4 linked regions of the Homo sapiens genome follow. The protein of the gene in region 2 interacts with the protein of the main gene of each other region in a biochemical or structural test. Each region holds a gene or a part of one and is shown on either strand. Other genes may lie near its edges. The genes, in order: RPS6KB1, EIF3B, NREP and EIF3A.

Region 1 (8,931 bases), on a different chromosome or scaffold from region 2:
ACAGTGCTAGTGAGAATGTAAAATGGTGCAACCGTGTTGGAAAAGTTCGTCTCTTAAAAAATTAAACATAGACTTACTACTGCATGACCCAGCAAATCTACTCCAATGTATCTACTCAAAAGAAATGAAAAGTATATGCTCCACAAAGATCTGGGCAATAATGTTCATAAAAACTTTTTTTTCTTTTTTTTCTTTTTGAGACAGGGTGTCACTCTATCACCCAGGCTGGAGTGCAGTGGTGCGATCATGGCTCACTGCAGCCTCAACCTCCTGGACTCAGGTGATCCTCCCACTTCAGCCTCCCGAACAGCTGGGACTACAAGTGCATAGCACCATGCTCGGCTCTTTTTTTTTCTTTTTTTTTTTTGAGACAGAGTCTCACTCTGTTGCCCAGGCTGGAGTGCAGTGGTGCTATCTCGGGTCACTGCAACCTCTGCCTCCCAGGTTCAAGCAATTCTTTGCCTCAGCCTCCTGAGTAGCTGGGATTACAGGCACCCGCCACCACGCCCGGCTAATTTTTGTATTTTTAGTAGAGATGGGGTTTCAGCATCTTGGCCAGACTGGTCTTAAACTCTTGACTTCATGATCCACCCAGCTCGGCCTCCCAAAGTGCTGGGAATACAGGCCACCATGCCCAGCATCGGCTCATTTTTTGTAGAGAACAGGTTTCATCACGTTGCCCAGGCCGGTCTGGAATTCCTGGACTCCAGCGATCCACCTGCCTCAGCCTCCCACAGTGCTAGGATTATAGGCATGAGCCCCCACACCCAGCCTTCTAAAAGGTTTATTCAGGCCAGGCGAGGAGGTGGCTCATGCCTATAATCCTAACACTTTGGGAGGCAGAGGCAGAAGAATTGCTTGAGGCCAGGAGTTTAAAACCAACCGGGACAAAATCACGAGACCCCCATCTCTGCAACAAATCAAAAAATTAGCTGGGAATGGTGGCACGTGCCTGTGGTCCCAGCTACATGAGAGACTGAGGCAGAAGAATTACTTCAGCCCAGGAGGGTGAAGCTGCAGCGAGCTTTTTCACGCCACTGCACTACAGCATGGGCAACGGAGTGAGACCCTATCTCCAAAAAAAAAAAAAAAAGAAACAAAAAATGCTTTATTCACAATTCAGTTGAACATCTGAATGAATAACTCAAATGAACATCAACCGGTAAATGGATAAACAAAATGCACTGTAGCCATAAAACAGAATAACTATTTGGCCCTAAAAAGAAATGAAGTACTGATACATGTTACAACATAAATGATCTTCAAAAACTTTATGCTGTGGCTCACGCCTGTAATCCCAGCACTTTGAGAGGCCAAGGCAGGCGGATCACTTGAGGTCAGGAGTTTGAGACCAGCCTGGCTAACATGGCAAAACCCCATCTCTACTAAAAATACAAAAATTAGCCAGGTGTGGTGGCGCACACCTGTGGTCCCAGCTACTCAGGAGGGTGAGGCAGGAAAATTACTTGAACCCAGGAGGCAGAGGTTGCAGTGAGCAGAGATCACACCACTGCACTCCAGCCTAGGTGATAGAGTGAGACTCCATCTCAAAAAAAAAAAAAAAAAAAAAAGTGAAAGCCACCAAATATAAAAGGTCATACACTATATGATTCCATTTATATGGAATGTCCAGAAAAAGCTTTTTTTTTTTTTTTTTTTAGAGACAGGTTCTCATTCTGTTGCGCAGGTTGAAGTGCAGTGGCAGGATCACGGCAAACTCAACCTTGGAGACTCAAGCGATCCTCCAACCTCAGCCTTCCAAGCAGCTGAGACTACAGCCGCACACCACCAAGACGGATAATTTTTTTCTATTTTTCGTAGAGACACGGGTCTCACTATGTTGCCCAGGCTAGTCTCAAGTGATCCTCCTGCCTCGGCCTCCCAAAGTGTTGGGATCACAGGTATGAGCCACACTGGGCCTAGAAAAGCCAAATCTATAGAGATGAGAAATAGGTTAGTTGCCTGGGGCTGAGGGTGAGAATCAGAAGTAACTAAATTGGCCAAAACTCTGTTTCTTTTTTTTTCTTTTTTTTTTTTTTTTTTTTTCAGAGACAGGGTGCTGTTATGCTGCCCAGGCTGATTTCAAACTCCTAGGCTCATGCGCTCCATCTGCCTTGGCCTCCCAAAGTACTGGGATTACAGGCGTAAGCCACCATGCCCAGCCCCAAAATTTCTTTATAGGGTGATAAAAATTTCCTTTTTTTTTTTTTAAGATGGAGTCTCGGCCAGGCGCGGTGGCTCACGCCTGTAATCCCAGCACTTTAGGAGGCTGAGGCGGGCGGATTGCAAGGTCAGGAGATCGAGACCATCCTGGCTAACACGGTGAAACCCCGTCTCTACTAAAAATACAAAACATTAGCCGGGCGTGGTGGCGGGCACCTGTAGTCCCAGCTACTCGGGAGGCTGAGGCAGGAGAATGGCGTGAACCTGGGAGGCGGAGCTTGCAGTGAGCCGAGATCGCGCCACTGTACTCCAGCCTGGGCAACAGAGCGAGACTCCGTCTCAAAAAAAAATGCAAGGTCTCACTCTGTTGCCCAGGCTGGAATGCAGTGGTGCAATCTCGGCTCATGGGAAACTCCACCTCCCAAGTTCAAGTGATTCTCCTGCCTCAGTCTCCCAAGTAGCTGGGATTACAGGCATGCACCACCACGCCTGGGTATTTTTGTATTATTAGTAGAGACAGGATTTTACCATGTTGGCCAGGCTAGTCTTGAACTCCCAACTTCAAGTGATCCATCTGCCTTGGCCTCCCAAAGTACTGAGATTACAGGCCTGAGCCACTGCGCCCGGCCGAGTGGTAAAAATTTCTAAAACCTAATTTTGGTGATGGCTGCACAACTCTGTAAATATACTCAAAGTCACTGAATTGTATAAACAAAAAACAACAAAAAACTTGGCAGCAGAATTTCAGTTACTGACATTATAATATATAGCTTTAAAATCAATCTAATCTGATTATGAACTCTCAGTTTACACGAAAGGATACTAATTAATTTAAAATAGACTCCAGGCCAGGCGCGTGGCTCACGCCTGTAATCCCAGCACTTTGGGGCCAAGGCAGGCGGATCACCTGAGATTGGGAGTTCGAGACCAGCCTGGCCAACATGGAGAAACCCCGCCTCTACTAAAAATACAAAAATTAGCCAGGCCTGGTGGCGGGCACTTGTAATCCTAGCTACTCAGGAGGCTGAGGAAAGAGAATCGCTTGAACCCAGGAGGTGGAGGTTGCAGTGAGCCAAGATCGCGCCATTGCACTCCAGGCTGGATGACAAGAGTGAGACTCCATCTCAAAAAAAAAGAAAAAGAAAATAGACTCTAAAACATTACAAGTCTTTAAGCAATCATGTCAAAACTTTAGAGTAGTTAAGATATTAAAGTGAATATATCTTTCTTCAAAACTACCAGTACACAGCCAACATACACAACAAAAACACATAGGGGTGTGTGTGTGTGTGTGTGTGTGTGTGTGTGTGTGTGTGTGTGTGTGTGTGTGTGTGTGTTTAGCAATTAGGTTTCTGTCACCCAGGCTGGAGTGCTGTAGTAGGATAATAGCTCATTGCATCCTCAAACTCCTGGGCTCCAGTGATCATCTCTTCTCAGCCTCTGGAGTCACTAGTGCCAGGCGTGTGCTGTGTGCTACTATGCCCACTATTTATTTTTTTAATTTTTTGTACAGATAGGGTCTTGTTTTGTTGGCCAGGTTGGTCTCGAACTCTTGGCCTCAAATGATCCTTCCACCTTAGCTTCCCAAAGTTCTGGGATTACAGGCACGAGCTATCATACCCAGCCAAAAACTGATAGTATTCTTATAGAATAAATGTTCAAATGCCCCCAAAACACAAAATTTTAGTCATAACTCACTCATGGTGTGACCAAATCACGATAACATGTAATACCAGGAATGTACACTTCATGATTATACCCAGGCAAAGAGATGGGGCAGTATCAAGGGGGAAAAAACCAATTCTCACCATTTTAACTGGATACAGTTTCTTTTATGTGTGGGATATGGGGGTGGTCATGGTTAAAGGTTTTTTTTGTCTTTGTTGCTCTACGTAATCGCCTAGGATGGCTTCACTTTTATGACAAAAGACTAACTTCTTCCAGATGTGATAAAACTGGTATTACATAATTGTTTTTTCTTTAATGTTAGTTTTACTTAATTCTAAATTAAAGACTACAGAGTAGTTAAGACTGGACCATGATTTTGAAGCCACCTCACAAGATACGCCCTGTAGCTATGTTTCATTTCCTAAGCTGGCCAGACCTATAATGCTGGCACCTGCATATTGTGCTAATAACTTCTACCGTTACTGTCTAGGACAGAAGCATTTGAGGCACAAATCTTTCCTGCTACTCAGTGTTACCTCTAGAAGGCTCACACAAGAAGTGTCAAATAACATTATGTAATACATACTGACAACTCTCTTTCACAGGAAACTCTTTACTCCTTTTTTTTTTTTTTCTGAGACGAAGTCTTGCTCTTGTCCCCCAGGCTGGAGAACAATGGCGCGATCTTGGCTCACTGCAACCTCTGCCTCCCAGGTTCAAGTGATTCTCCTGCCTCAGCCTCCCGAGTAGCTGGGATTACAGGTGCCTGACACCAGGCCCGGCTAATTTTTGTATTTTTAATAGAGACGGGGTTTTCACCATGTTGGCCAGGCTGGTCTCGAACCCCTGACCTCAGGTGATCTGCCCACCTTGGCCTCCCAAAGTGCTGGGATTACAGGCATGAGCCACCCCGCCTGGCCAGGAAACTCTTTACTCCTAATTTTTTTCTGCTGCCTTAAGCTTTATGGCCTATCCAATGTCTGCTGTGTTCATTAGGATTGACAAGATTCAGTAACTTAGAGGAAATGGAAGAAAGGGTAGAACTTTGCCTAAACTCTTGGGCTATTTAAAAATAGTTGCTGCTGGCCGGGCACGGTGGCTCATGCCTGTAATCCCAGCACTTTGGGAGGCCGAGGCAGGTGTATCGCCTGAAGTCAAGAGTTTGAGACCAGCCTGGCCAACATGGTGAAACCCCGTCTCTACCAAAAAAATACAAAAAATTAGCTGGGTGTGGTAGTCGGCACCTGTAATCCCAGCTACTCGGGAGGCTGAGGCAGGAGAATAGCTTGAACCCAGGAGGCAGAGGTTGCAGTGAGCCGAGATCGCACCACTGCACTCCAGCCTGGGCCACAAGAGCAAAACTCCGTCTCAAAAAAATAAAAAATAAAAAAAAGTTGCTGCTTTATAGTAAGTATATATTACAAAGCAAGATAAGTATTGATATTTTTTCTATAATTTTTCATAATCATGAATATTTGAGTATATACTATCTATATAGCACTTTGGTTTTCAAAAATTTTAAACCTTTTACTCAATAAAAATCTGATGTCCCAATCTGAAACTTGTACAGTAAGCCTGCGTGATTATTTCAAATTTTGAATTAGAGTACAAAGTGAGAATTTTTTAAATTGCATTACAGTTTTCTACTACTCTTAATGCTATAGAGAGCAGAGAAGATTCCAACATTTTTGCAATCTAAATTCTCTGAAGGAAAACTTTTCCTTAGTTTCAATTTACTGCCCCAAATGATATCATCAACAGTGAAACAAAAAAACAAACAAAAAAGACACCCTCCGCCCAAAAACTCCCCTCTTACCAATAGGCTTTGATTATATTCCTCTGAGATATTTAAACAGAATCTTTTTTTTTTTTTTTTGAGACGGAATCTCACTGTGTCGCCCAGGCTGGAGTGCAGTGGTATGATCTTGGCTCACTGCAACCTCCACCTCCCAGGTTCAAGAGATTCTCCTGCCTCAGCCTCCTGAATAGCTGGGACTAGAGGTGTGCACCACCATGCCTGGCTAATTTTTGTATTTTTAGTAGAAACTGGGTTTCACCATATTGGCCAGGCTGGTCTCCTGCTCCTGACATCGTGATCCACCTGCCTCGGCCTCCCAAAGTGCTGGGATTACAGGCATGAGCCACTGTGCCCGGCCTTAAACAGGATCTTTTTTAAGTTAGGTGGCAGATATTCAACTTTGTCCATAAATGTATCATTTAGTCTCATCTTTTAATCTCTAATTAAATAAACTATGGAAATACCTATATTTACTAACGCATAGTCACTCTGTAACGTACCTTGAAAGGCACATCTCTCTAAACGGGATCAATTAGTTTTAAAAAAAAATACACACTATGATACTACAGTTGTAAAAATACAGCACCTCGAGTTTAACTGCAATTATTAAGTCTCTAGGTATACGAGGTTAAACCTGAATGATTGGTTCCTTAGCAATGACAAGACAAGCTGAATTTCTGTGAACTAGCTAATTGCTTAATACGCCAGGATATTTTGAGAGTACTGTACTTTACGTACTTATTTAATGTAACCCTCATGTTATAGAAAACATTAGAGATTAAGGAATTTACTCCAGGTCACAGAGTGAGTATGGCCAAAGGAATCTGAATTCACTTTTGACATACCACAAAGAGGAACATTATAAACACAACTAGTAAATGCAATGAAGAACCTGTGCAATGAAGCCTGCTGAATTAAGTCAGAAGACACTACCACTATGTGATCTTTGGCTATCATATGGCCTATGCCTCAGTTTCCTTACTATAAAATGAGGAAAACTGATATGCACCAATGTTTAAAAACTTTGTGTAATAAATTAAAGTCTATAAATTCACAAATAGAAACTATCAGAAGATTTTCTAAGAATCTAAACTTCTCTCATTTTCCAGAATTTTTTTTTTTTTTTATTTCAGGGTAATCTGGATGTCACCGAATCTCCTTGGATTGTCAACCCAATCGTACTCCAAATCTTCCATTATCCATCTTGAGGCACCTCTTAGAAAAAATAACACACTAAAAAGAAATATTTTCAACTCCAAAAAGTGTTGCTAAGACATATTTTACAGAAGTCTCTTCCTCAAAATCCTCTTTAATTGCCTTTGCTCTTTCCCCAGACTTTCTCTCCCCAAAATCGGGGCCATATTTCTTTCTCTTTCCTATTTCCACCAATTTTTCTGACCTCCTCCTCACACCTTCTCAAAATCCTACTTGCTTGTACCCAGCAGGACAAAAGCCCTGGAACACCTACTGTTCTTGAAACACAAGAAAGTGAAAAGAAAAGTCCCAGTTTACACAGGAATTTTAACAGAGTACTGTACTTTCAAAAAAGAATAAACCTGGCTGGGTGCGGTGGCTCACACCTGTATTTTGAGAGGCCAAGGCAGGCAGATCACCCAAGTTTGGAAGTTCCGGACCAGCCTGACCAACATGGAGAAACCCCGTCTCTACTAAAAATACAAAAATTAGCCGGGCCTGGTGGCGGGTGCCTGTAATCCCAGCTACTCGGGAGGCTGAGGCAGGAGAATCGCTTGAACCCGGGAAGTGGAGGCTGCAGTGAGCCGAGATAGCGCCATTGCACTCCAGCCTGGGCAAATAGAGCAAGACTCTGTCTCAGAAAAGAAAAAAAAATAAAATAAAATAAACCCAGTCTGGAAATTCTATCAGTTCAACTAATGAAGATATAAAGCACCTTCCTATCCAGTTTTCTCCCCTGCCCTGCTCCAAAGCCACTGTCATAGAGAACCAACATAACTGATAAAGAGTATGGTATATGGTATAAATAATGAAAGTAATCTCATATTTGTTTCCAATTGTAACTAGTGTACCATTATGTTCGATTAAGAGGCTAATTGGAATTCTGCATGAAAACATCATTGAAAAAGCACACACCAACCGGATGCAGTGGCTCACGCCTGTAATCCCAGCACTTTGAGAGGCCAAGGCTGGCAGATTGCTGGAGCTCAGGAGTTCAGGCCCACCCTGGGCAACATGGTGAAACCCCATCTCTACTAAAATACAAACAATTAGCCAGGCATGGTGGTGCGCGCCTGTAGTCCCAGCTACTCGGAAGGCTGAGGCACGAGAATCGCTTGAGCTCAGGAGGCGGAGGCTGCAGTGAGCCGAGATCAGGCCACTGCATTCCAGCTTGGGCTACACAGTGAGACTCCATCTCAAAAAAAATTAAAATAAAATAAAGTAAAAAGCCTGGTGGGGTGGCTCACACCTGTAATCCCAGCACTTTGGGAGACTGAGGCAGGTGATCACCTGAGGTCAGATGTTCAAGACCAGCCTGGGCCACATGGTGAAACCCCATCTCTACTAAAATACAAAAAAAGTAGCCAGGTGATGTGGCGCGCCCCTGTAATCCCAGCTACTTGGGAGGCTGAGGTAGGAGAATCGCTTGAACCTGGGAGGCAGAGGCTGCAGTGAGCCGAGATCGCACCACTGCACTCCAGCCTGGGTGACAGAGGAAGACCCTGTCTCAAAAAAAAAAAAAAAAAAAAAGCCAGGCGCAGTGGCTCACACCTGTAATCCTAGCACTTTGGGAGGCCGAGGCGGGCAGATTACGAGGTCAAGAGATCGTGACCATCCTGGCTAACACAGTGAAACTCCATCTCTACTAAAAATACAAAAAATTAGCCAGGTGTGGTGGCACGCGCCTGTAGTCCCAGCTACTCAGGAGGCTGAGGCAGGAGAATCGCTTGAACCCAGGAGGCAGAGGTTGCAGTGAGCTGAGATCACGCCACTGCATTCCAGCCTGGGTGACAGAGCAAGACTGTCTCAAAAACAAAACAAAACAAAAAAACCAGAAAGAAAGAAAAGAAAAGAAAAGAAAAGAAAAAGCACACAACTCAATACCCACTTTCTAAACCGTGTGATTTTGATTTAGTCTTATTTGATTATGAAAAGAACAGTATTGGTCAGGTATGGTGGTTTATGCCTATAATCCCAGCATTTTGGGAGGCCGAGGCTGGTGGATCATTTGAGGTCAGGAGTCCGAGAACAGCCTGGCCAATATGGTGAAACCCTGTCTCTACTAAAAATACAAAAATTAGCCAGATGTGGTGGCGCATGCCTGTAAT
Region 2 (8,931 bases):
GTCAGTGTCCACCCCTGAGGGGACAAAGGGCGCAGATCACCCATGGGGGCACATGCCTAGTGGCACCGCCGAGGCCAGTGGGAAGGAACGCAGGAGTCCGCGGGCACCAGGGCCCAGGGGCAGCGTAAGGGCCAGCTCCTGGGGACTGAGGGATCTCTAAGTTACCTCCTCGCAACTCCAGGCGCTCGTTTTTCTGCTCCATATAGAGCTCCTGGGCCATTTTCCGGTACTTCCGGAAATCTTCCATCATGGTGCGCCTTCTCTCCACCAATTCCTATGCATGAGGTTGGGGAAAGCACAGAACTGGTAAGACAAGTGCCTCCCCATCGCGAAGAGCCCACACCCAGGCGGACGGTGCCAGAAGGACAGCATACAGAGGCACTCAAGCAGGAATGGCTAGTCCATTCATTCTCACTTTTCCCCCAACGCTGCCCCCCACCCACAAGGCAGCAGTGAGGTCACCAACTCCAAGTCCCCGTGCCAACCCCAGTTCCCCAGTGCATCCCTCCTGGGGGGGAACAGAACCAGTGTCTTCGGAGCAGAGGCAACTCTGAGCACATACACAGCAGCTCCCCGCAGCCCCGCCTTTGCCATGATGGCGGATGTCACAGCACAGCCCTCATTTTGGGAATGAGGCTCACCTTTGAGGCTTTGGACTGACTCAAACGATCCTTCTGTTCAAAGATCTTAGAGTATTTCTTCAGATCCTTTTTAATTTGCTGAAACAAAAGACCCATCACTCAGGATTTAACATTCAAAGCAACAAGCACAAATGCAATCTTCAGAGTTGCCAACATGACATGACACCCAAAGCCATTCACAGAACACAGCTTCCCAGGAGCGCTCGCATGCTCCTTTCTCCATGACACCCAGGGTCATTCACACAACACAGCTTCCCAGCAGCACTCGCGCCTGCTCCTTCCTCCATGACACCCAGGGTCATTCACACAACACAGCTTCCCAGGAGCGCTCGCGCCTGCTCCTTCCTCCATGACACCCAGGGTCATTCACACAACACAGCATCCCAGGAGCGCTCGCCTGTTCCTTCCTCCATGACACCAAGGGTCATTCACACAACACAGCATCCCAGGAACGCTCGCCTGTTCCTTCCTCCATGACACCGAGGGTCATTCACACAACACAGCATCCCAGCAGTGCTCGCGCCTTCTCCTTCCTCGACACCCAGGGTCATTCACACAACACGGCTTCCCAGGAGCGCTCGCGCCTGCTCCTTCCTCCTTGACACCCAGGGTCATTCACAGAACACGGATTCCCAGGAGAGCTCGCGCCTGCTCCTTCCTCCATGACACCCAGGGTCATTCACAGAACACAGCATCCCAGGAGCGCTCGTGCCTGCTCCTTCCTCCATGACACCCAGGGTCATTCACAGAACACAGCATCCCAGGAGAGCTCGCGCCTGCTCCTTCCTCCATGACACCCAGGGTCATTCACAGAACACGGCATCCCAGCAGTGCTCGCGCCTTCTCCTTCCTCGACACCCAGGGTCATTCACACAACACGGCTTCCCAGGAGCGCTCGCGCCTGCTCCTTCCTCCTTGACACCCAGGGTCATTCACAGAACACGGATTCCCAGGAGAGCTCGCGCCTGCTCCTTCCTCCATGACACCCAGGGTCATTCACAGAACACAGCATCCCAGGAGCGCTCGCGCCTGCTCCTTCCTCCATGACACCCAGGGTCATTCACAGAACACAGCATCCCAGGAGCGCTCGCGCCTGCTCCTTCCTCCTTGACACCCAGGGTCATTCACAGAACACGGATTCCCAGGAGAGCTCGCGCCTGCTCCTTCCTCCATGACACCCAGGGTCATTCACAGAACACAGCATCCCAGGAGCGCTCGTGCCTGCTCCTTCCTCCTTGACACCCAGGGTCATTCACACAACACAGCATCCCAGGAGCGCTCGTGCCTGCTCCTTCCTCCATCTTTCACTTTGAGACGGACTTTCTCCCTGGGATTTAACCCTCCTCTTTGCTCTGACCTAAGACCAACGGCCTATTTTACCACAATAATGTAAATCCCAGACAAGCCGCTTCTAATCCCAGCAGGACTTTTTAATGGCCCTGGCATCTTTTTATCCACCCCTCGGGTTCATGCAAAACTTCCCTAAAGAAGCTGAAAGCCTCAAGTTACTATCCTAAAGCTGTTCTATTCCATTCAGTTCTCACTGTTCCTGCGTCTCTTCAAAGAATCCTTGCAAATGTCACGTTTTTATCCCCCAGTCACCACCCTAACAATAACAGAAAAAACTGACACCTTTTCAACGCCACAATTGCCTCCATGTGCCCTGCACCCGGGGGTGGGGGCATGCTGACCTTGATCTGTTCCTGGCTCAGGAGTGTGGGAGGCCGGGGCCGCCACAGCAGCTGGCAGAAGCGGTCCTTGTTGTTCTTCTGCAGGAGGCGTCCCTGGAAAGTCCACAGCCAGTACGCGTTGTCCACCTAGGCCAGGGCAGGGACACACCAGGACACAGAGGGGTCAGAGAGCCACAACCGTGACTATGTCACTTGCTGAACAAGGTCCTGGGTATCGGGGACACGTGTGAAGCAAACAAAGCTCTGCCTGTGCTGAGCTGACAGCAGGGTAGGTGGGCAGTCAATGCAAGACACCTCCATTATGCAACCGACCCGGAGTGCGGGGCACGGAGCAGCTGGAGCAGCGCTCATCACAGCACAGGCCTGCACATTCTGGCTGGCAATAAGAACCCCATGCTGGATGTAAGCTAACTGCCTCACTACTGCGCCGCTGAACCCCGTGCTGGATTTAAACTGGACTGAACCCTGTGCCAAACGTAAGCTAACTGCATAGCACTACTCACTGCTGAGCCCTGGGCCGGGTGTGAGCTGTGCGGAGCCCTGTGCTGGATGTAAGCTAACTGCATCACTACACGCCGCCTAGTTCCGCTCTCCTCATGGCAGGCCTCTCTCATGAAGGAGGGCGCCTTCACTGGCACTCAGCATAAACTCCTTGTTGCAGGCCGGCATTTTGGAAGCTAAGTGTTCATAACTCAAGGAGAGTGGTCAACAGCTTAAAAAGTCTTTTTTTTTTTTTTTTTTTTAATGGGGCTAGGGTTTCGCTATGTTGCTCAGGCTAGTCTCAAACTCCTGGGTTCAAGTGATTTTTCTACCTCTGCCTCCTGAAGTGCTGGGATTACAGGTGTGAGCCACTGTGCCTGGCCTAAAGTGATTTCAAGTGTCAAGGCAGGCCCCACCGCAGTGACATCTGAACATACCTGGACACAGGCTGTGATCAACATATCCTGATTCGAATGCGAAGATTTCTAACTCTAGACACTTGCAGTAACATTTGGGAAGTTGATATTCCTACAAATTCTGTATCTCATTAAACAAAATTACCCGCGTTTGGTTTCACAGGCTCTATTGGCATGGACTAGTTCAAGTATCAGTGCCTCCATCAATGTTTTTACAAGTCACTAAATACTGAAAGTCCTTGACAAACTTAACCAGCAGTTTTGGAATACGAGTTGTGGGTAACGCGGCAGCTGGACTCAACCACTGACCCCAAAACAGATCTTAATGTCTGCGGTTATGGAACTCTGTTCAGACTTCAAAGGAAACGACTCCTCTCTGCAGACATTCTCACTCCTTTTCAGGGGTCCCTGGGCCCAGGGTAAGACCCCCCACCTCCCCGCAACCATGAGCAGGGGCTGCTCCTGCACTCGGCGCCACCTCTTCTACAACCCAGAATCCTCCTCCTCCTGCCACTAACACCAGCCAAGGCTTCTGTTCAACACAGAGGCTTGGTGCCCCTTCCCTGAGGTCCCAGGACAGCACCAGAGTCAGCAGCTAGCCAGCACTCCCTGCTTCTATCCACAGTCAAAACTATGCCCCACAGGCCTGCACCTTATGGCTCCACCAGGACACAGAGGTGACGACGTAGCGCCCAGTAGGATCCCATTCGACGTCGGAAGCCATGTAGTGCTCTGCGATGTTCATGACCGTGCAGTCCGAAGTGTCCACAAACGCTAAGGCACCGTTCATACTGCAAAGACAGACAGGACCGTCAGGCTTCATGGAGACGCATACCTCCTGGCATCCCACTCCTGAGAGGTGCTGCGGCATGGGGTCCCCAGGGAGCCAGCCTCGGCGTTAACATGGAAACAAGCACAGCAACAGCCTCTGGTGGCCGCTGTGAGACTTACCAAATCACAGATGCAGAGTGTGCAGTGAGTATTACATATGACTGCCATCATATTATTTTTACTGGAAATGTTATCTGAGGCTAAGTAAGCCTCCAAAAATACAGTAGCAAGTGTGGACAATGAAGCAAGGGAGAGCAGCAACAAAAGGGTATTCTTTTAACTCAGAGCAGAAAGCTGGAAGCTTCTCCATGATTTCGACACACTGCTGGAACACAGCTGAGACCGACACCGTGACACCAACCACAAAGGTAAGGCAGCCTCACAGCTGTGTAACGAATACCCTTCCCACTAGAAGACAAGGGACTGACCCCCGGGGGGAGGTTACTGGATGGCTGGAAGGCACTTGTTTAACCACAGAGAACCACAACCCGCAGACAGGTCTGCCTGGTCACTTCACGAAAGCATCTGGGAGCGCTTATTTCACTCTGTGCGGGCTTGGCCTGAGTCCTGGAGTACCGTGGGTCTGCAGAGGTTCAATGAAGTCCTATCCACTGACACTGGGGCAACCCTTTCAGCGCACAATACTCTCTCTACCAAGAAGCCGGGTGCAGGCGCCTGAGGGGTCTCTGCCACAGCAGAGCGCTACTCACAGGGCGGACAGGCTCAGAGCGCAGACACCTACCTCCTCAGGCCCGCCAACACCACGAACTGTCCTTGGGGGCTCCAGAAGATGGTGTTCGCCTGCTGCTTGTCGAACATCTCTGAAAGGAAAGAGCGCGCCTGTCACGAGCTGCGAGGGCTTCCACAGTGCCGGGGCAGCCAAGGCTGGAGGACTTGGCCGTGCTCATGCTGCCCATGAGGGCAGAGCTGGTAATGCTGGACCACCTCGGAAAACAATTTTACAAAGTCCATCGCCAAGTACCCCCTAAGTCATGATCCATACTTTAAATGGGAAAAAAAAGAAGATGCGACAGGGGTATTTCAAAACAATACTATCTTATTTCCTGAGGTAACTGGACAAAGAATTCCCTTTACAGCAAATGTTCACTGCTGCAGGGACCCCAACAGAGAGATGTCAGAGACGTGTGACCCCAAAAGACCAAAGCCACTCTCCTAGCGACAAGGCGTCTTTGGATAAGCTGTATGCTTGTTGAAACTGACTACAGTCATCATCTTTGCAGGTACTAACTCTTACTTCCGGAATGGATCTCGGGCAGAGCCGCTGGAACAGTGAGAAGTGAAGGCCAGCTGGGGCTGGCTCAAGTCCCCCTCAGAGCATATGCTCCCTGCATCTCAAACAGAGCTGACAACCTGTGGCCTCTCTCCCCTCAGCCTGTGGTACATCCAAAAAAGAGGCATGGGGCAGGCTGACGTGGGGAGGAGGGGAGGAGATGTGGGAGGGCAGTGCACCCTGGCAGGGGCAGGGGTCTCAGACTTGCACAAGCGAAAACCCCAACAGCCACGGGCATGGGATGGAGCCCATGCGGTGGCCCCAGCGTCCATGCCAAACCTCAGGAGAGGCGTGTCACGCAGCATGTTTGGAAGGTACAAGGTGCCTCTGCTTGCCTATGTTTTATGACCTAGAAGACTTACACAAGTCTCTGGACAGTCTGCAATTGCCCATATGTTTCTATCAACCAGAATTAATGAAACAGCCAATCTTGTAATCCACTGCCAACTGAGGGCACCACGCACCCTGCCAAGCTCTAGCAAAGTGAAAACTAAACTCCTCACAGAATCATGCTGCGAAAGGTGCGGCCAGGAGATTCCAACCCCTTCCTGGTACAGAGCCAAACCCATGGCTCTGCAGGAGGGCAGCTGGCAGCCAGAGTCCTGTGTGAGGAACACAGCCCATCGCCACCTCCTGGCTACCACACACACACACCCCACGCCTATGAAGCAACAAGCAATGGCTCATTCAATCCCCGCGGGCACCGGGCTCTGTGCTGAGCAGAGACCCCAGGATGAAGTGAGGAGCTGAGGGCACAGGCAGCAGGTGCCGTGAGACAGGCGAGGGCCCACGCACCACTGTGAGGAGCGAGCCCCAGGTGGGTGCAGTGTGGCACCCCTGGAACCGGGTGCACGGGGGCAGAGTACAGCTGTGTGCAACAGCTCTGCGCACCCTGGTCAAAGGCACCTGACCCAGACTGGGGACTGGCAGGAGTATGTCCACAGGAAGTGACCCCAAGCCCAGGGACAGCAGCTACAGCCAGAAGAGAAAAAGCTTCACTTGAGATGATGGCAGAGAATGGAAGCCTTGGAAATACTCGCTTAAACGTGAGGGCTCAACGGGGCTCAGAGAGACACCCTGCAAGGAGGCGGCACCTCCAGGCCATCGCTCACTTCCATCAGCCGAGGCCACACCCCATTCATAGGCGAGTCCCGGCCTGCCCAGCAGTGGTCCTAGGCCAGTCAAATGCTCACTGTTGGGCAGCGACTGGGTCATCATCTGTGCTGACCTACTCAGAAGAGGAAAGGGACCAGGTTACTTACTGATGAGTTCAATCTTCCCGTTGTTTTTGACGTGGTAGAAAGACACAGATATCCGCGGAGCCTCTCCGTGCAGCACAGCAAACTTACTTCCATTTGGTTCCCAGGCAAAGGCTATGATGGTTTCTAAAATGCACAAAACAGACCCCTCCCTTTTTGGTCAATTCAGAACATAGTGCTCTTGATCAGTTAAAATGTTCACTATTCAACCACAGAGAAATATCCCCCGACGTGTAAAAGTTCATTAAAAGGACGGGAGAGCAAGCAACAGCAGGAAAGGTGCACATTCCTGGAGTTTCAGAGACAGCTGCTTCCACTTGTGTGGAGTGACCTACGTGAAACTGCTCCCTTCCTGAGAGCAGGACACCCACAGCAGGACCGCAGGAGCCCGACATTGTCAGCAGCTGTGGATGCCGCTTCCCTCGCACCCAGTGTGCACCTACAGTGGGATCCTGACCTCCGGTCTCCCTGCCTGGAAGGGCGGCCATGTTTCCCATTTTCTCACCTATTTTTAACCCTTCCTTCCTCCTTTTCTCCATGGCAAAACAAAAAGCCAAACAAGAACACAGGCTCAATCTCTTTTCTCTTTTTTTTAGACAGGGTCTTGCTCCGTCACCCAGGCTGGAGTGCAGGGGCGCAATCTCAGTTCACTGCAACCTCTGCTCCTGGGCTCAAGTGATCCTCCCGCTTCAGCGTCTCAAACAGCTGGGACTATCGGTGCGCACCACCACACCTGGCTAATTTTTTTTATTTGTTTTTTGTACAGAGAGGGTCTCACTATGTTGCCCAGGCTCTAAACACGTTCTGTGACCTGGAGATGACTATTCATGGTGAGGGCTCACAGTCCTGACTCAGCTGCTCAGACAACCCCTCGCATGGAAGTGTTAAAGCCAAGAGTAAAACAGCACGTAGGCCCCATTCGCCTCAAAGTGACTAAAATACAACTTGCCTTTCATCTCGACCACATCCACAGGTACCTGTTTCTCCCTCATTCGGAAAATTTCAAAATTTGTGACAACACCCTGTTTAAAAAAAAGGGGGAAGGGGTGACATTCTGGACAGTGAAAATATGAGAAAAGGTTTAAATCAAAGATCAACGTCACAATGAAAGATTCAGTGTGCATGCCTGGTTCACACACGAGCATGTGCAGTGATGAAAGCCACAGCCCTCAGGATGGAAGACGGTTCTAAGGCTGGAGAACTGCCGGCACCACGTCTACTGGAAGCCACTGGACATGCATGAAGTAACTCTGACCCAGATCCCACCTCCAGGAGCCGCCCTGCCCGCCACACTTGGGCACAAGCAGTCCCAGGGTCCACACTGCAGGCTGCAGGCCAGGGTCCTGAGGGCCCTAAAGGCACACCAATGGGGCTGGGTAAACCACTTCAGACAGTGGGGTGTCCTGTAGCCATAACCTTCAAGAAGTCCTGCCCTACTCGAGGAGTCTGAGGGAAAACTGCCCTGATGTCCATCAACAGAGGAAGGAGGCCAAGAAACGGGGTCCACCCAACAAGAGATTACTGCTGACACTCAGCACCGTGGACCAGCTGTGGGAACGCTGTGCTCCGTGAAGGAGGTCAAACACAGAAGGTGGCATAGTATCCGATTCCAGCTGTGTGTTCAGAATAGGGAAATCATAGACATTCGTGATGCCAGGAGCTGGGCGGAGAGGCTGCTAACAGGTATGTTGTTTCTTTGTAGGGTGACAAAAACATTTATTTATTTATTTATTTTTGAGACGGAGTCTCACTCTGTTGCCCAGGCTGGAGTGCAGTGGTGCAATCTCGGCTCACTGCAAGCTCCGCCTCCCGGGTTCACGCCATTCTCCTGCCTCAGCCTCCCGAGTAGCTGGGACTACAGGCACCCGCCACCACGCCTGGCTAATTTTTTGCATTTTTAGTAGAGACGGGGTTTCTACTAAACCCTCGATCTCCTGACCTTGTGATGCCCCGCCTCAGCCTCCCAAAGTGCTGGGATTACAGGCGTGAGCCACCGTGCCCGGCCTTTTTCCTATCTTTTAAAAATTATCTGTGGAGATGGGGTCTCACTGTGTTTCCCAGGCTGGTCTGAAACTCCTAGCCTCAAGCTATCCTCCCTCCCACCCCGGGGGAGCCACCGCACCCAGCCGATGAAAACGTTCTGAAATGAGTGGTGGTGGCTGCATAACTCTGAACACACGAAAAACCACTGAACCAGTTCACCACTCTAAAGGGGTGTTTTCAGGCATGTGAACTACATGTCAATTAAAGCTTTCTTAACATAAAAGAAAGAAGAATACTTCTATTAGAGGGAAAACTCAGGAATTTCTTTTTTTTTGTGAG
Region 3 (8,931 bases), on a different chromosome or scaffold from region 2:
CCTTGTAGCTCATTTATGGTTTCAGTTTACATTTGGCCCTCTCATATGACCAGTAACACCTGGGAACAGAGTGGCTTTTGAGGGAGATTCTTTATAGCACCACCTCAAAGGGTTTTTGCAGAAAGGAAGTGTATGTATATGCGCATGAATTCTCCTTGAATTACAGTACTAGGTTTCACAACCTCCTGGCTAGTTAGGCAGAATAAAACATGTACACATGCAGACACATACTATTTAATTGGCAGAAAGATTATGAAATATACCCCTTTGCTGCAGAAAGAATTGATTATACAGGTTGGACCCGTGCTGCCCTAGTCGGCTTTCCTAATTGCAGGAGACAGATACGCATACCCATCCTGTTAAGTTATAAAGGACCCGTGTGTGCATTCTTTAACCCTATAGGACCCCATCAGGGATAAAGAATAACATTACAGTTATGGTCGTTAACAACCAAACCATGCAACATATCTTCATGGCAGATTTCTGAAAATGTATGTTAACTAATGAAGTAAGCAGTATTTATGTGTGTGGTGTATTTAGCCTCTGCAAAAAGATATAATCCTGCCTTTAAGTATCATTCTCATAGAACAGTCTCCCCAAAGAAATATTGATAAAGACAGTAAATGAACAGAGGAAAATACAAATTTAGAAACAGGTAATAAGTAGATATGATTCAAATTTTACCTGCAATGTAGTAGAAGTGATAGGAAACATGTCCGAGAACTTTTAGATTGATTCTGTATTTGGACCATGCCATTGAAAAATAAATAGCAAATTTTGAAATGAAAAGCTTAAAAAGTGTTTGAAAAATAATTTAAGCAATAATCTAGTTTGCATATTTTTTAGGACCTTGGGGGACTGGTCTCTGAATTTTCCCACATTTCATTTTTCTCATTTGGAGCACTAGTTGTCAGCTATTAATAATAGTTTATACTAAGCAATAATTACCGGTGAGCTAATTACTTTATAGACTTTAAAAATGCAGTTATTTTTCATGATGCACTGTCCAAAGAGTAAAACAAGCCTCAAAAGAAAGGAAAGAAGGAAGGGAGGGACAAAACCCTGAGTATTTTATTTCCAATTTGTATGCTGTGATAGAATATTGAAACTTACCCAACTATCAATACATTCAAGAGAATCAGTACGAAATAGCACATTTTCACTATAAGTAATATTTAAATATATAGTGGGTTTAAGTATATTAATTATACCCAAAAGCATAAAATTGGTATTTCCTAAGAATTGATCAAGGATATCTAAATACAAGTCATGATTAGTATATTTTAAACCAGTGTGGTTCTTTATGACGTTCTGTTGTTTTTCAACCTAATTGTCAGTGAGATAAATATAGCATCATAGAAAAAGATGCATTAACCAATATATTCAGTGACAAGTATAAACACTCAAACTTCCCCAGAATTCAAACAAAACTGTTGCATATTCTCCAAATTAAAGTAACAAAATTTTCCTTCCCTCTACTTTTTTTTTTTTAACTAGCATTTTTGTTTTCTCAATTGTTGAAGGTACGATTTGCTTTTCTGATTTTCTAATAGACTTCTGGAAGAATAGTATTCTAGAGGGTTTTGAGGATTTTATTTGGGCAAAAACAATTGTTTATTGTATACATGGAAAAAGCAGTTTTAAAAGAAGACATACTTTTTGTGAAGATTAATGCAAACTTTGGTTTGTTTAATGAAACAACAGTTTTGAGGTATTCCCATACCCAGAACGCTTAAATTTTCTAGATGCAAACCACCGAAACAACAATAGAGAATTCAATGAAGTGTCAAAAAGAAAGTTAATTTAATTGGCCTTCATGAAAAACACAAACTTGAATTCAGACAATGAATGAATGGAATGCAGTATCAGCCACGTGTCCATGTTTGGAGTGTCAGTTGATGAGCACCAAGAAGAATGGGCAGCTTTACAGTTCAGCAAGCACAGATGGACTCTAGATAGATGGATCAGCTTACCAGTTTTCTGACCCTCATATTATCAGCACTCAAAAGCTTCAGTGATAGGGTCATTGTCAGTTCCTAATATTCTGAACTAGTTAGAAAACTGAGGGCACAGAAACTCATGGGTTCATGTGGGTCTTGTTACTGCTGTGGCCCCTAGGAGCTGCAGGGAGACCTGGCTACAGGGCCACTTGCCTGCATGGAGCTTATTCTGCACTTATCCCTCACCCTTCTATCATCTTCCTTGGCTGATTCTGACAGCCATCAAATGCCCTCCCAGATGTGCTCACTGCCACCCCCATTTCCTTTGTTGACAGCACTACTGGATATTATGCTAAATGTTGGTTTTGTTTGTTGTTTAGTCTGTTGATAGATGTTCCAGCAGCTATTACATTTGACTTAACCTATATATTTCTTTTTTGTTGTTGCCCTTAAAAAGCACACTGTGTTTAGTTTGCGAGGGCTGCCATAACAAAGTGCCACAGACTGGGCAGCTTACACAACAGAAATTTATTTTCTAACAATCTGGACGCTGGAAGTCTGAGATCAAGATGTTGGCAGGGTTGGTTTCTTCTGAGGCCTCCCTTCTGGGCTTGTAGATGGCTGTCTTCTCCCTGTGTCTTCATATGGTCTTTCCTCTGTGTATCTGTGTCCTAATCTCTTCTTAGAAGGACATGGGTCACTTGAGATTAGGGCCCACCCTGATGATGTCCTTATTTTAACTTAATTGCCTCTGCAAAGATCCTGTTTCCAAATACAATCACATTCTGAGGTATTGGTGGTTAGGACTTCCCCATATGAATTTTGAGGTGATACAAGTCAGCCCATAACACATTTTTAAAAGTAAATTTTTGTGGATTGATCACCCCTGCTGTACCTGCCCCACCCCCAGACGTGAGCATCTAGAAGGCAGAAACTCTGTTTCTCTTGCAATTCCCACAACCTAACAGTGTCCAGCACTTTGCAGCTATTTCATGAACTCTTGCTGCATGAATGCAAAAAAGGTTGGTAAGAAACTTGAAGTTGAAAAGTGGCACTATTTCTGACTGCCAGAAGTAGCACCTGGCGAGTAGACTAGAACATGTTCCGATGAGAAGAAGAGGCAAAGAAAATACAGTACATTTAAACCGAGACAGCTTTTGACAGAAAGGCAAATGATTGTTGCTTGGGATCACCCATTCTCCACATCCAGCACTGGGAATGGAATGGAAGTTCAGGCCCTTGCGGAATACCAAAGGTCAGGTCTGAATCATTTGAGAGCAAAGGTAATTAATGATTGTCAATAGATCTTTTCTCTTAAGCTCTTCACTTTAGAGTCTCAAAATACTGCAGGTATAAGAAAGAACAATGCTGTAATGCAGATAGATCATATTTGTTTCCAGTAATTTACCACGGTTTCTTAAAACTAGCTGTGCTTAAAAAAATGAAAAGTTTAAATATCTCCTTTAGGTACTATGTCTAGGGATATGCTGAGTTCTTAGATACCAGCCAAGCAGGTTTTAAGAATGTAACTGAGACTCCTCTGTCCCTGCCATTTTTGGCTTAAGGTTCTGACTTTGAAGGAGATTGGAAAACTACCAGAAGGCCAAAGCAACGTTCATTTTTCTAAAAGTATACAATGATTACTTGATGATTCAAATACTAAAAAATGCCTAATGTGCTAAAAATGCCTAATAGTGAAAAAAAAAGCCTTGGTCAGTGTAACAAATATGAAGTAAGGGAGAAAGTTTCCTTAGTCATGTGTGTTTTGCTGTCAGATATTCATGTTCCCAAGTTCTTTGGCAAAAGTCATTGGCTTTTTTTTTGTTTTTGTTTTTGTTTTTTTTTTTTTTAGCAAATGGAGAGTTCTTAGAACAACAGATTGTTAGAATAGGTGTAATAATTTCTGAAAGGCAAGCTATTTTCCCCTACAAATTAGACTTTGGTGGTTTTAGTAATGATGCTTAGAAGTTAAATGTTAAAGCAGTGTCATTTCGTTAAAATGGAATATCCCAGAAAAGCACAAGAACGCAAGAATGACAATACTTACCTGACCTTGCTTTTCTTTGCTTCCTGTGCCTACAAAGTTTTTACATGTACTTTTATCAACGTTTTTGGTTTCCAACAGAACTTAATTTCTCACTAATATTTTAAGACTGTACTTGAAATATGATTTTTAAAGTGGTAATATAGAAATGTAATCACTTTATATCCATTTATATGAAGTGAATTTAACAGTAGATTCAAACTTGGGGTCCCCTAAAGTTGAGCCCAAACTGGGCTTTTGTGTGCTGTGACTTTGTTATAAGTCTGAAAAAAGCTTGTGTATTTGAGATTATTTTGTTTTCTTCACCCATTCCTGGATAAAGGAAATGTCAGAAGTGGCTGCTTGTCCCAAACAAGGCAGATGGTGGATTACTTTCTGAAGGAGCTGGGCACAGGAGAGGAATATGTGGAAAAGTAAGGTGGTTGGGGTGAGGGGAACCACATGGCTCAGAAAACAGACCCAGTCCAAAAAGAAAATAGTTCTAGCTCTTGCAGAATGAGCTCTCTTTAAGACCCAAACGTGGGTGGCGGCTGTGGACTGGTATAATTTTGAGGGAGTGGTGGTAGGCGATTTGCATTCTGGGATAATGCGAGGGCAGCAGGATAGTGGAAGGAACTGAAGTTTAGAATCTGGAAACCTAGTGTGAGTTTCAGTCCTACCCTACACTACCTGTGTGACTTGGGGCAAGTCGACCTTTTTGAGTTTCAATTTCTTCATTTGTTTAATGATAAGACCAATATTATTGGCTTATCATCAGGACAAATTAAGTAATGTATGCAAAATTGCTTTGTAAGCTAGGATGTGCTACAAATGTCACTGGTGTAGAGCAAAGATAGTTAGTTACTGTTCAATTATTCCGAAGAGTGAACACACTTAGCCATCTACATTTCCTACCCTAGATTCCCTGACAAAATGGATTGATCGGGGTATACCAAGCATTACAGTCAACTCAATGATTAGGTTACCTCAATTACGGCTTCCAAAACCAAAATGTAAACACACATCTAAGTCTGTTTGTTAATCTGTTAATGAGGTGTGACTCTTAATTGTTGTTTATTAAATGTGAGGCTTATTTATTGCAGAATTTGGAGAATCTGATCTGGAGGGAATCTTACCTAATTTCACTCTGCTTTCAATCAGAACTATATTAAATGTGAATTAGCCCTGACAGATGGTTGTTGGATTCTGTTTCTAAATTTTTTAAAGAAGATTTCACAGTTTTTCTCTAATTTCTTTTAGTAATTTGACAATTCTTATGCTGAGTTCTTCCTTAGAGCTGACCCAAATCTTAGTTGTAATTTTAAGGCCTTTCCCCTCTCCTGTCATTACTTGAAGATGGAGAACAGCTGGTCGGCAACCTTATGCTAATCATCCTTTGTATATTTAAAGAAGAGTTACTCAGTTCCACTCCCTCGCTCCACCCCCTCCCACCACCGAATTCATCAGCTAGTATTCTCTGAATCATTCATGGTGATGACACCTATCTCCCGCCCCTCCCTCAGACACTTGGCTGTTTCAGGCAGCTGGGCAGAATGTGTTGTCACTGGCCACATGGACTTGGAGAGAATCTGGGCTGCTGCTTTCTTTCCTCTTTTATTTTATTCATAATCTTTGGCCTTCTAATAAATGATCAGAATAACCCTTAACAGTGTTTGATGGAGTTTTGCAAGGATACTTATAGAATCCTTTGAAAGTTAGACCTCCCCGATGACTTAGTGCACTCAGCCAGACATACCATGAAGCTGCTACTTTGCCTGCTAAAAATAACATTGATTGATATCTCTGCTTTATTGGACTTAATCTTGGAAGACATCGAGCTGAAACTCTCCTGAGTGCAGTGCGTGTTCAGAAGCACACTAACAGTTTGAAAGAGTTAATGGTTTCCCCAGTGCTCTAAGTGGTAGTCGGGAATAAGTAACCATTGAGGAGAATTGAGCTCATTAAGGTTATCCCGTGTAGTTTCAGAGTGGATCCTGTTTTTAATCTGAATGTGTATGCTTTTGTGTCTCTATAGGTTTATTACCCAGAACTCTTTGTCTGGGTCAGTCAAGAACCATTTCCAAACAAGGACATGGAGGGAAGGCTTCCTAAGGTAAGATCCTTAGATGCCATATTGTTAACACTATTTTCAATATAGAAACAATTGTTTTAAAATATCAGAGCTTTTTCATTTGAATACCCATTATAGGCTGCTATAACAATCCATTAATCTGATACTATGATGACCTTGGAAATAATGTACTTTTAAAAAATATCCTAAAGTCCTATGACTTAAAGTTCACATTATCTTCCTTCATAAATGAAAAATTTTCATTTAAAACATGGAATCAGTTTATCAAAGTACAGTTTACAGGTTTTAAGTCTGTTCCATTTCTGGTTAGACAAACTCAAATACAATGATCAAACTAAAAGATTTCTTAAAAGTATGATGACTATTAATTGTCTGCTAATGAAGTCTGAAGGTCTGATAAGATTATCCATGAAGCAAAAGGGAGGAACAAAAAAACTGTTACATTTCTTTCTTCTAATTTTTGAGCCTAAAAACCATTTTTTATAAACGTGGTTTCATTGTTCTGACATCTTAGGTGTGGCAGTTCTCTGCCTCAAGAAAATTTGTAAAATTTATATTTTAGATTTTAGCATAATTTCTGAAACAAACAATAACAACTACTTACCAGTTTTTACTGTAGATACTGGACTTTGCCTCTTAGGGTGAATACTTGTTTGACTTCAAGCGGGGAGAGTATACTTTTTAACCAATGACTTGCTGATTTTGCAGTTAAGAAAGAAAAACAGAATCCACTGAAAATAAAATTTCTATTTGAAAGTTTCATAAGTGTAATTGACTAACGGTGAGTCCTCCCCCAGCTGTTACTGGTATTTCAATGTTTAAGAAATTATTTTATTTACACTAAATAGTATCAACAATTCCCTATCTTATACTGGCAGGCAGAAACTGAAGAGGTTGTATCAACTGGCAGTTTGCACTGAAAGAAAACAATCTTAAATCACTTTTAATCTTGCAGAGCATTTTTGAAGGTCAAGGTTGAAATCACTGGCAGGAAAGTAGGTGAACAAAATGGTTTGACCCTGCCTGAACTAGACTTGCACTGATTTGTAGAGCTGGAGTGGAAGAGAGCTAAAATAGTAGCGCTTTCCTTAAAAGACACCCACACCCCACCACCTCACCAGCAGCACACCAGCGGCACGAGCAGTATAACCACAGACATTCGTCACTGTGCCAGATCAGGGCATAATTCTCTTAAGGCAGCTGAGGCCTTCACATTAGTTCTTGCCTCATTCAGGCATCCAGAGGTCCTCTCTCTTTGATACTGGTGACATAAACCAGAGGGGCAAGACTAGGCATAGTTCCTTGATGAGTTCAGTGGTGCCTCACCGTACCCTTAGAAAGCCAGCCCTGCTGTGCTAGGTCTTGTCTCACACAAAGACATGCTCCCAGGGGTGGGCACCGTGGATCATGGTATTCAGGTCTTCTGCTATTTTAAGTTCTTTCTTCTCTAAATATGTGAATAATATTTTAAGCATAGTGTTATTTGTTCTTTTTCCAGAAGTTCCCTTCTGGAAAAGCATATCTTTGTATAATTGTAGGAAAAATAATCTTGACTTACTTGGTCCAAAGCACATTATTAACTGGGGATTAATTTCCTAGTAGTCATCTGTCGGGAGGGCTGATCCACCCCGAGGCACATTAACTGGCGTGACTTTCAGGACGGCGGGGCTGTGGGAGCCACTGGACACATCTGCCCCCCAACCCCTAGCCTCTTGAATTACTCAAGTCCCTCAGCTCTGTTGGCACAAATACGTGCTGGATGATAGAAGAACCGTTTTTCCCATGGATGAACTTTTTTTGGCTTGAATTCTTACAAGGCCTGACTTCTGGATCTGGAGAAAGAAGACTTCTTTGTGTCCCATCTTCAAAATGCCTCCTCCACTTGTTGCAGAAGCCTAAAATTCCTTTAGTTGGGGCAGAAAGCCTATTATTATTTAAAAAAAAAAAAAATAGTGGGAGGGTGTGTGGATTGAAATCAGTCAGGGGAAGAGGATTGAAATCTAGTAAATGCAGGACTCCATAGGGAGAACGCACAGAACTCTGTCTCCTCAGGAGCACCTCTCTCCACGGGCATGGTGGGCTCCAGGCCCTCAGGGTGCTTCAGTAGCACACCTCCCTGTGGGCCCTACTACCATTGCCTCATGAGGGTCCAGTCTGTATGCTTGTCTTCCACACAGCAAGTTAATGAAGGGTGAGATGGGCAGGGACTGTTACTGTTTCTGTTTCAATCTCTCTCTAAGCTTGAAATCGAATAGAGTACTCCAGCCATAGTAGGCACTCAGAAAATGAATAATTAATGAAGAAATGTATATTATCTGGGACCTTGAAACAGAAAAAATGGTAAAAATGGTAAATTCAAATCTGAAATAATCGTCACTTTCTTTTTTTCTGGAAGTGCCTCTTCCCAAATCCCTAGCTCTTCCTTTTGTTTTGTTGTGTATGTTTCATGGAGGTAGAAGATTAGTACTGAGACTGAGATTTAAATAGAGAGATACACTAACGTTCTGTATATTCACTTTTGAACAGAGTAAGTCTGAACTGGAGCAGTTTTAAGGCAAGCTGTGTAAAGACTATAATTGTTGAGTTAACATTTATCAACTTTTGGTTTTCCTTCTTTTCTTGCCTGTGACAATTAACAGCCATTGAACTCTTCATTTGTCCAAAACCTAAGTTTGTCCTATCCTGAACCATGGTAACTGGTTGACTGTGGGGTGAGGTGGGGTCGGGCTGGCAGCATTATTTTAAAGACACTGGGATTACAGTGGATTTCCTTTTTTTTTTTTTTTTTTTAAATTTTGGGACTGTGTACCAAGATTCCAAGATTGAAATTATTTTCACAACTGCAAGTAACTACCCAATATTATGCTTTTGGAAAT
Region 4 (4,579 bases), on a different chromosome or scaffold from region 2:
TGTATAAGGCTCCCAGTAGGATTTAGCTAGGCTACTAGAAGTTAGACTGCTTTCGCATTAAACAGCTAACTTCATCCACAGCAAATTGACTCAATCAGGAACCTTCATTTGAAGGTGTGTTAGAGGATGGGGTAAATACCCGATAGCTGTCTTTTTGGTGAAAGAAAAGGTGCATTTCAAGAACTTGGGGGGCAGGAGGAAAGCACAATGTTTCTTAGCCAGGAAAGACAAATAATCCAACGCTGCTAGTCTTAACCCCAGACCAGAGAGAACTGCAGATCTGACTGGGCCTAAATTAAGTAGCTTAATGAAACCATGTAATTACTTGTTCTCCTTTCTTTTGCTATAGAAAATCTACCAGTTTAAATGAGCTTCACCTTCTGGGTGAAGTTTCTAAGGTCAACATGAATCCTCTTACCTCTCTCACTGCTCGTGTTCTGCCTTTTCAAAAGGACCACTATGAACAGATCAGCGCATTCTCTAGGCCAAAAGGGCTAGCCAGGTGGCAAGATCAATTTAGCTACTTTGTATTTTCAGAGTCAAATTACAGACGGTTTCCAAAGGTCTTGAGCATGGGGCTTTGGCATAGCCTCAATATATGGGAGTCACTGTGATGAGATGTGCCTAATGTTAATTTGATATTCTGACATTGCTATTTTACCAGAACTAAGAACATATTGAGCTGGAGCTTCTTGAGGGCAGGAGAGTATTGGAAAAGGAATCCAGAAGACCCTCTCCACTACTCAGGCAGCCACTATTCATCTATTTTTAAAGTACCCCATTTTCAGGCCGGGTGTGGTGGCTCATGCCTGTAATCCCAGCACTTTGGGAGGCGAGGCGGGGGTGGATCACAAGGTCAGGAGACCAGCCTGGCCAACATGGCGAAGCCCCGTCTCTACTAAAAATACAAAAATTAGCCGGGTGGTGTGGTGGGCGCCTGTAATCCCAGCTCCTCAGGAGGCTGAGGCAGGAGAATTGCTTGAAACCAGGAGGCGGAGGTTGCAGTGAGCCCAGATCACGCCACTGCACTCCAGCCTGAGCAACAGAGCGACTCTGTCTCCAAAAAAGAAAAAAAGTACCCCATGTTCAGCCCCTGTGCCAAATTTGCCTAGGTTTTCCAGCTGACAATGAATACTGGGAGTTAAAACGCAGAGTATTACTATAGTTAATTTTCTAGGGTTCTCTTATGAAAAGTATATGTAAACACATTCATTTAAAAATCCTTGGAACTCAATGTGGAACTTTAAACATTTTGCAAAATTACATTTAGAGAAACCCAATTTTTCAAAGTTTAAGAAATATACAAAGTATGACAAAATTATCTTCATAAGAACATGCTGCATACTTGCCTAGTAGCAAAACAATACAGGGAAGAGTCAAAAGGGCTTCTCCAACTGTAGAGGTACAGATTGTCTTAACCTGTTCTTTTCTGTACAGACTTAAAATTTCTAGTGGCTTTTATTTTTCTTTGTATTTTAATTTTCCTACAAAGTCCTTTTTGGAAGTTGCAGAATTATTAGCTTTGATGAGAACAACTTTTGTCATAGATTTGATTTATTAAACCAAAATTATACATATTAAAATTATATCACAAATATATATGCTTCCAGACAAAGAAAAGTTTGTTAGTCCTGATTTTCTAATCGTAGCCACTCAAGGAACAGTCCTTTCATAGTACCCCAAGTATTTCAATTAGACTTATAAAAGTATAAGTCAATCTATGGTCAGTGTCTTTGGTTAAAAAAAAAAAAAAACACAGGCAGTTCTTTACATAAAAACGTCCCACACGTTATAGATGCCAGCCACCTCCTGGTAGTCACTATGGACAACTAATGAGATGCAAAGTCTTTTGGACCGATGATGTCTCTACTACTGGATCTATCTGTATTAACAGCAATGTTACTCTCAATGAAACTGCAGAAGCCACCATGAACATGGAAGACCACCTAGCAGATCGGTGAGTAGGCTGCTTGTTCAGCTTTCCTTTAACACCTGTTGGTAAATACTAATGGGAGTAGACAGAGTTGTATGGCCTGGACAGTGGAAACCAAGAGCAGGATCGCAAAGTAACAGCATCAGACTCTTCTGCCCTCCTCTTGCACTTGGGTTCTGACTCCCAGAACAAAGAACTTGGGAGAACAGTACGGGAGACTGAGCAGAAAGGATGGGTTTGCTGACTCGCCTTGAAATCTAACTCTAACGTAGGCAGCAGTAACTCGTCTGAACAAATCTGATTAAATAAATTCTTGGGGCTTACCTGTGATGTCACACATACAGATCTACTCTCCAGGAAGCAAACTCTTAGCAAGTTACTGCCCCACTTGTAATCACTGATCTGAAATTCTCTTGTTATGAAAGAAAAGTCCTTCTCCCCACGAAAGACCTTTAAAGACTTCTACGTATTTGAAATACCAGATACTAAGGTGTTTAAAATGATTTCTATCATTGGTAACATCAAACAAAAATAGCTGCATCTGGTTAAGTTAAAAAGCATCAATACTCCCTCTTCTGGCCCTACAGCTGTACCAATAGGAATTCTCACCACTACTCAATAACAGAAATAAGTGCCTACAGCCATGATGAATTTGTAACATTTTCTCAAATTAACTACGATTTTTCTAATTTCAGGTGAAAACCCAAGGTGGTACTTCAAACACGCACATGCACACACAAACTCAGAGGACAGCGTTACAAGGAAACTAAGGAATTCCTGCATTAACAAAGGAAGACATGTTAGGGGGACATCCTAGCCACATATGCTTTCTTTGTTATATTTAGGTTCATTTTCATTGATACTAAACACAGACATTTAATGGCACTGATAAAAATTCAAGTAAAAAAAACTCAACTGAATATGCAAACTTACCATTATAAACAAAATACTATAACCACAAATCAACACTAAAACAAATTCTGTAAGTATTTTATTTATCACTGAAGAAAAAACACAGCAGCAAGTTCTGTGTTGGCTTCAATGAGACCAAATAGTTCATCTTTAACATAGCTACTGCGCTCCAAAATTGAAGTCAACACAGTCATTACTACAAATTACTTGTTGAAAGAATCTATCTTCAAAAGAAAGAAAATTAGGAAAGAGAATTTAAACGATTCCTCCAAACCATACATTTATAAATATTGTCATATTTAAAATGCTTGAAAGGCATGAATTCTCCATTAATGGAAAAGCAGTTTGCTATTGGCAACAGAAAAAAACTCAGCGATAATTTACCAAATGCTTTAAAATTTAAAAGCTATACTGTTTGGATTCACACTTGCGCAGTAATCTTGTCATTACAACAACTGCAAATTGCTTTGTACTCACCTTCTCTCAAGTAAAATCTAAAGAAAACCCCACCGTATCCAATGTTTGTAATGTTTACTTCAAGTGAATCTAAAAAATTTCTAAATTTAGTTTATGGTAAATACCTCAAAATACCTAAAATAGGTACGTATCAACCACTTAAGGGTGTGAAAATTGTTTCAGATTCACTGCTTTAAAGGGTCTTCAAATATATTTTAACAGAACCTTACTTCATTCCAAATTATTATCAGATATTTCAAAATCAAAAAAAAAGTATCAGTTCTATACCAAGATAAAGGTGTTACTCAATACCTGAAGGGTCACATTTTAAATTTATTTTTTAGTTTTTCTTTTTTGTCAACAAATGATTGATGAAATAATGCAACACCCTTAAATTCCAGAAAATGGCATGGTTTTTCCAACCTCCTGTGGATATGGTGCATGATCAATCTATTATATAGGATTAATACAAGTTCATGCTTTTTGTGTTATGGTGAAACAACATTAAAGAATCCAATTTAGATTGGTTGAAGCACAAGTATAATAATCCTTGAATGTGATCAAACCTATTTAAGACACCAGTTTAAATCCATTATCTTGAGACTTAACGTCGTACTGTGGTCCATCCATCTTCATCAGTCTCATTTTTAGTACGACGGAGAGATTCCCTATCTTTCTCAGCTCTCCATGAGGCCTTCTCTTTTTCACCTTCTCTTTCTCGGTCTCGGTCTCTTTCTCGGTCTCTTGAAAGAGCTGGGGGAGGAACTCGACGAGGAGGGTCCCGCTCTTCCACCCGGTCATCTTTCCTGTCATCAGCACGTCTCCAAGAACTTACTAAAAAGTTTAATTAAAAAAAAAAAATTAAGTTAGTACTATATTCTATTGGCTCAAATTACTCAAAATTCCTGTACTAAAGATTGTTAAATACAGAAATCATTGTTAAATACAGAAATTCTGTTAAATTCTGTATTGTTAAATACAGAAATCATAATGAAAGCTCATACAATTTCTGACAATCTTTAACATACAAATGTACAGATAAAACTCAAAATCTGAAAACAGGCAGAAACCACTAGCCTGGGAAGGACTACAGTTAGTATAAACCCGTAAGACAAGGTGGCAAAAATCTGGCTGAATGAAAATTTTATAACTGAAAGGATTTTTGGCTCTTGAAGAATTTTAACAGCAAATTAACCATACAAAATACAGGAGTTTTTAAAGTTATGGCTATGAGAGAAAAATTCTCTCATAACAGGATGTCAAGACATATGGAAAATT

Evidence for each region.
Region 1: of the proteins of EIF3B (region 2) and RPS6KB1, one has a biochemical effect on the other in vitro, tested with the Homo sapiens proteins (one study listed by BioGRID).
Region 3: the proteins of EIF3B (region 2) and NREP form a complex in vitro, tested with the Homo sapiens proteins (one study listed by BioGRID).
Region 4: the proteins of EIF3B (region 2) and EIF3A interact in far-western blotting, tested with the Homo sapiens proteins (one study listed by BioGRID).

Annotation. Positions count from the first base shown.
Region 1 is NC_000017.11:59,894,741-59,903,671, reverse strand, and holds part of RPS6KB1 (ribosomal protein S6 kinase beta-1), read right to left. Parts: intron 1-8,931. UniProt on the Homo sapiens protein: Serine/threonine-protein kinase that acts downstream of mTOR signaling in response to growth factors and nutrients to promote cell proliferation, cell growth and cell cycle progression.
Region 2 is NC_000007.14:2,370,477-2,379,407, reverse strand, and holds part of EIF3B (eukaryotic translation initiation factor 3 subunit B), read right to left. Parts: intron 7,632-8,931; coding exon 7,559-7,631; intron 6,736-7,558; coding exon 6,613-6,735; intron 4,881-6,612; coding exon 4,802-4,880; intron 4,020-4,801; coding exon 3,881-4,019; intron 2,459-3,880; coding exon 2,333-2,458; intron 720-2,332; coding exon 642-719; intron 275-641; coding exon 166-274; intron 15-165; coding exon 1-14.
Region 3 is NC_000005.10:111,732,575-111,741,505, reverse strand, and holds part of NREP (neuronal regeneration-related protein), read left to right. Parts: intron 1-1,779; exon of another isoform or gene 1,780-3,202; intron 3,203-5,998; coding exon 5,999-6,076; intron 6,077-6,659; exon of another isoform or gene 6,660-8,931. UniProt on the Homo sapiens protein: May have roles in neural function. Ectopic expression augments motility of gliomas. Also promotes axonal regeneration. May also have functions in cellular differentiation.
Region 4 is NC_000010.11:119,032,134-119,036,712, forward strand, and holds the end of EIF3A (eukaryotic translation initiation factor 3 subunit A), read right to left. Parts: intron 4,136-4,579; coding exon 3,906-4,135; 3' UTR 1,537-3,905; downstream 1-1,536. UniProt on the Homo sapiens protein: RNA-binding component of the eukaryotic translation initiation factor 3 (eIF-3) complex, which is required for several steps in the initiation of protein synthesis.